Linked DNA regions of Homo sapiens: region 2 is linked to region 1. Evidence: fine-mapped expression QTL. A gene starts in region 1. The other region holds a variant in brackets. All regions are shown on one strand. Distances are from middle to middle. Region 1 holds the start of TET2 (tet methylcytosine dioxygenase 2). Region 2 overlaps TET2-AS1 (TET2 antisense RNA 1).

Region 1 (2,910 bases):
AAGAGTAGAGAGGAGACACAGAGAGAAAGGCAGAGAGATGAAAGACCAAAGAGAGAAGCCAAAGAGAAATTTGGATGGGACTGTTATAAATCTGCTCTTCACTTCTTTGCTGGGATTGGGTTTCATTTCTTTAGGCGCCCCTGACCTTGCAGTCTTGCAACTCCAACGCTGCGCTCCCCACCCCCTCCCGCCCCCTCCCCGGGCCTGCGCCTGCCTTTGTGTCTGCCTGTCACTTACCAAGGAACCAAACGAAGCTGATTCGGGAGAAGCACAAAGCCGGGACACAGATTTGTCCATAAATTCTCTTACATACATTCCCCAGGCTGGAAGGCTCAGCCCAGCGCTGACTTATGTACCTTGAGAAAAGTGAGTTCTGGTCTTGTTTGGGGAACCAGAGAAACTATTCTTTCCTCTTTCACTCAGCGCCGCTAACAAAACGCGCGGACTTAAGGAAAAAAAAAACCCACTCAGTGTACTCCAATTCCACTCCCTGTGACATTCACTTCGTACAGCCCCCTAAAGGGGGATAAGAAGGTAGGAGGAGGCAGACACAAACCCAGACCCAGACCCTACAGCTGATAAAAGGGTCGAAAAACACCCTATCAGTGTTCTCTCTGAGGTTGTTCAGGATAAACGGGAGACTCGTTTCACTTACACGAAAGAAACAGGGGAAGAGGATTAAAGGGAAAAGTAGTGCCCCCAAAGCTGAACTATTTTAGAAAGGAAAGCAAATTTAAAAATCACTTTTCTGAGGATTAAAAAAGGCCGGGAAACCGGCTCGTCGGAGGCACAAAGGTAAGTTTTCTGGGAGATGAGGGGACGAGCATTAGGAGGAGAGAAGAGAACACAGAACTACAGGTTTAAAAGGGGTAGAGGGAATTAAAACTATATTTGTCAGCCATGTTGAAGAGGCTCCAGTAATTTGTGAAGCTTCCCTCTTCCCTCTTGGTATTTGTGGGTGACACTACAGGGTTTGCTCCCCAGTCCCTGGAAGCCCGAGAAAAAGCGAAGGGGAGAAGAAAGGGAGAGTTTCGCGGCATAAGAGAAGCGCTCTGACCTCGTTCTCGTCCCTCAGCCTTGCAGCAATCCAGCAGTTGCAGTCGGGTCTCCTTTCTAACAAATCCTAAAGGGCAGCCATCTTGCTTCCTTCTGCTTCTCTACGAAAGCAGCCTAGCCTCCGCATCAATATTCATAAGGCAGTTTGACGTCTGTTCTCATCACTCAGCGGGGCCGGCGTCTCGGGGCGGCCGCGCCGAGGGGGCGGACGTGACTTGCATGCGAGCGGGACCCGGGCGCGCGGCGCTCGCGAGGAGGCGGCGGCGGCCGCCCAAGCTCTCGCCGCTGCCACTGCCGCTACCGCCGGCTCTCCTCCTCCGCCCGGGCCTCCTCCTGCTCCGCCCCGGCCTCCTCCCGCTCCGCCCCGGCCTGCGCCGCCGCCCTGGGGCCCTCAGCCCCGGCTCCCAGGGAATTAGCCCCCCGCACCGGGCGTCCAGCACAAAGGCCGGCGGCACCTGGGGCCGTACAGCGGGGCGCGCAGTGGAGACCTGGGCTGCCCTCACGCCGTGCAGTGGCGCGGGGGGAGTGGTGCGCCCGGACCAGCGCGGAGTAGGGGCCAGGGCTGGCGAGCGCGGGGAAGGGTGCAGCCCTCGGGAACCCCGGGGACCTCGGCGGGTCTCCACCCCTGGGAGAAGAAGCAGAGCAAGCGCGAAGGTTGGGGGCGAGGTGGGAGGTTGGGATGGCACGGGTGCCTGGACAAAGACGTGACATCTAAGATTTCCCTTTGAAACTTTTTGCTGGTCTGCACTCCACCACCACTTCGAGGTCCCGCGCACACGCCCCCGCGCGCACCCACCTCCTCCGGAGTGTACCCGCACGTGCCCTCGCTCTGGCCCCCGCCTCCACCCACTGGCACCTCTCCCCGCACCACACCTCCGCTTGCGCCCACCTTACCCTCAGAGGCCCGCGTCTCTATCTCCCTTTAGATCCCGTTGCCCGCGCTCTCCTTTCCCTTTTCTGTCGCTTTAATCTCATTCAGCAGAAGCGCTCCCCTGTTTCACCGAGGGCATGCCCTTAGTGCTTTAGGGGCCTGTATTTTTAAAGACCCGACAAACTGGGAAATTGACCGAGTTCTGTTTCTCCCCGCCCCGGCCCACCTTCTGTTTACTTTAGCCACGTGGGCTGAGTAGAAGGGGGCGTCTCACAGATTGAAATAGGTTTCTCACTAGTGACCCCCTACTTCTCGCTAGGAGGAAATAAACCTGCACTTTCAAATGCTTAAGTTGCCTCTCGTAAGAGCCCTTACTTTGAAGTAGTTTCCCCCCGTACAATTAAGTAATGAAGAAACCGACCGATACAGAGCTAATTCCGAATGACGGATGCTTGATTTTCCCTGACATTCGGAGCTCTGTAACTATGCTCTTCCTTTGACCGGAGTTTTTCTCTATTGCCGAGTAGTGTTACTTCCCCCTTCTAATGCTCCTTTTTCTAATCATCAACTTTTTATTTGAAGATGAGATGAAGAACAAAGCCCATATGAGTCATAGTAAGTATCATATTACGTCAGATAGTCGTTTTTGAAATATTCCCTTCATCTTTTACATGTTCTTACATGACTGACGTTCAAATTTTAAGTGGGTATTTTGGTCACATCTTTTATGGGATCACTGCATGGTGATCACAGTACCCTTAAGTCAATACTAGTTATATTGTGTAACCACACTTTTTTTGGTCTGTAATTTTTTTTAAAAGCGAAGCCCTAATTTTACGAAATCGGAATATTTCCTCTTTGAAGAGTGTGAAAAAGGGAACTCCTTGCAAGTGTCGCATTGTTGCTAAGAAGAATGTTTAGTGGGTCCAATCAAACTTTGTTTATTCCATTTTGAAACAAAGTTGACTCAGATTTCAGATTTT
Region 2 (2,910 bases), 150 kb before region 1:
TTTCTTTTTTGGAAGAATGTCTATTCAAGTTCTTTGTTCATTTTTAATTGGTATGATTGTTTCATTGAATAACACAGTTATTTTAAAGTCTTTACCTAGTAAATCTGTGTTTTGGGGAGGATGGGAAAGGAATTTATTTCTGGAAATTTATTTTCTTGTTTGGAATGGGTTTTACATGTTTTCCTGTTTCCTTGTATGCCTTGTGAATTTGTTAAAAACTGTTTAAAAATTGGGCATTTGGAAAAATAGCCATGTCTCCCAGTCTTTATGGACTGTCTCTGAGCAGGGGTAGTCCTTCTTTTATTAGCTGGGTGTTCTCTAGGCCTTGGGACCAGCCTGAATGGAAAACAAATTCTTCTCCAGTCTTTTCTGCATATGGGTCTATTCTGAGCCTTTGTGTGACTTTCTCAATTTTCCCCATATACAAGGTGGTTCTTGAATATTTTACATTTCCAAAGTCTCACCTTTAGCTTCTTAGGACCTTACATGGCCTATTGTAGGTCTCTACCCATAACCTTTTGCTCCAGGCATCTGCTGGTCTTAGTCTCTCTGTAGCTTTCATAAGCGGCACCCACTGCTTCTGTTTATTTGAGATGTAAGTTAGGCAAAACAGACTAGACCTTCAGGTAGCCCCCAGACAGGTTAGAACTTTGCAAATAAGGTCTTCTCTGCCCCTCTAGTTTATGGGAAGGAACTGGAAACTGGGAAGCTTCCTCTTCCAGACCAAGACTGCCTTGCCAGAGAGGTGGTAGGGCAAAGGTAAATAAAAACAGCGCATGATTTTTTTTTTATCATTTTGAATACAGCTTTTTCTTGATTTTTGCATTTGCTTGATTGCTATAGACCTGTGATTATTTTTCCAGAGCTTCTGTAGGGTTAATTTAGCCAGCAGTTTCTTCTTTTTTTTTCTGTTTTTTTTTTTTTTTCTTTTTTTAAAAGTGTTTCCATGGGGAAGTGAAGACTTGGAGCTTCCTAGTCTGCAATTTTGTTGACAGTACTCCTAAACTCAGATTTTATGACTTTCTTTTTCTGCTCCTGGATGCCATGCTGGAGGTTTTATGACATTTTGGGGGAGTTTATGAGTAGTTTGGGGGATACTGATGGAAATTGATATTTCTGAATGATCTCTCCACTGAAATTGCTCTTAGGTACTATTCCAAATTTCTGGATTTTGAAACTAACAGTAACTAGAAACTCCCACTAGAAGGCAAAGTAAAGAAGGCTTGGAGGGCTATATTTAGAGTTGAGAAAAATATCTTAAAAAAAAAAAAGAAAAGACAGGGTAGGGTCTTTCTCTGTTGCCCCAGCTGGAGTACAGTGATTACCCATGGACTCCATCCCCCTGCTAATCAGCACAGGAGTTTTGAACTGCTACAGTTCTGGCCTGGGCTAGTTTACCACTCCTTAGGCAACCTGATTGTCCCCTGCTCATGAGAGGTCACCATATTGATGCCAAATTAGTGCAAATACCTGATCAGCCTAGTGCACTACAGCCCACAACTGGACTCAAGCAATCCTCCTTCCTCAGCCTCCCCAGTAGCTGAGGCTACAGGCCTGAGCCTCAGTGAGAAAAATACTTTTCTCTCAATCTCATTTCCTCATTCTCTCAATGAGGAAATCATTGAGGGTACTACTCACAAGATCAATGTGTGTTGTTTATGAGATCTTGGGGGAGAAGATTTTTCTTTTTCTGATAGGTTTTAGAATACATAA[G/A]TATACTCTGAAAAGTAGACAGGATATTTATCATCTTCATTTGCCTCATGAGGAAATTGAAACTTAATTAACAGGAGTTTTAGCCAGGTTTTTTCTTCCTCTTTTTTCCCTTCCTGAAAATGGAGGATTCTTTTTTTTTTTTTTTTTTTTTTTTGGAGGGGGGAGGCTGTATTTTTTTTTCTAGTTTTTTTAAAAATTATTATTATACTTTAAGTTTTAGGGTATATGTGCACAATGTGCAGGTTAGTTATATATGTATACATGTGCCATGCTGGTGTGCTGCACCCATTAACTTGTCATTTAGCATTAGGTATATCTCCTAATGCTAACCCTCCCCCCTCCCCCCACCCCACAACAGTCCAAATGGAGGATTCTTATTTGCTGATGTGCCTCATGCATCTAGAATTGTGCCTGGAACATACAGAGTAGGCAGTTAATAAGTATTTGTAACATGAATGAATGGGAGGAGCTAGTTGTCCATAGTAGGAAAAGTGATGACTTTGTTATCTTTTTAAAACTTTATTTAGTGAACTTTATAATGAAGTCTAACCTATATCAGAAAAGAGTACCAATCATAAGTATAAAGGTCAGTGAGCCTTCATCAAGTGCATACACTCATGTAACCAGCTTCCAGATACAGAAAAAGAATATTATCAGCACTTTAAAATCAGAAATTCCTCTGTCTCAAGCCCTCTGCCGGTCACTACCCACTACCAACCCCCATCTTCTCTAAAGTGTAGCTACCCTGATTTTCAAAATACATGGATTTGCTTTGTCTATTTTGAACTTCATACGCACTAAATAATACACTATGTACTCTTGTGTATGGCTTCTTTTGCTAAATATTTATTAGATTCATCCATATTATTGAATGGGTATAGTTGAACTTTGTTACATTTTCAAACTTTATAAAAACATTTTACTTTGAAATTAATCAATGCCAAGTGAAACTCAGATTTATAGAAAATTAAACTCCAATAACTATCATTTTTGGAACACATAATGACAGAAACTATACCAAGGACTGACATACACGAGTGATCTCACTTAATTCTCTCAAGTTTCCTGAGGTGTAGGTGTTATAATCCTCATTTTACTGACAAACTCATAGAGAAGTTTACTAATTTGCTAATAAATAACAAGTTTGTAGTTGATGAAACCCTGTCTGGACCCAGGTCCCTCAGTCAACCATGCTTA

Evidence for each region. PIP is the estimated chance that this variant, and not a neighbour inherited with it, causes the effect.
Region 2: its variant is fine-mapped to the expression of TET2 in blood mononuclear cells (TOPMed, PIP above 0.99). The same link has a PIP of 0.9 or more in whole blood.

What each region holds. Positions count from the first base shown.
Region 1 is chr4:105,145,127-105,148,036 of GRCh38, reverse strand. TET2 (tet methylcytosine dioxygenase 2) reads right to left here and starts at 1,161. Exons shown (of 11, transcript NM_001127208.3): 1 at 1,058-1,161. It overlaps LOC124900868, which reads left to right. Exons shown (of 3, transcript XM_047416559.1): 2 at 1,076-2,542. The coding sequence ends at 1,764. RefSeq lists silencers at 187-256, 1,220-1,899 and enhancers at 587-636, 980-1,149.
Region 2 is chr4:105,292,314-105,295,223 of GRCh38, reverse strand. All of the region lies in intron 2 of TET2-AS1 (TET2 antisense RNA 1), which reads left to right. It also overlaps the pseudogene RN7SL89P. Among named protein-coding and RNA genes, the nearest start is that of TET2-AS1, 59 kb to the left of the region's middle. The variant G/A (reference allele first, on the strand shown) is at 1,714.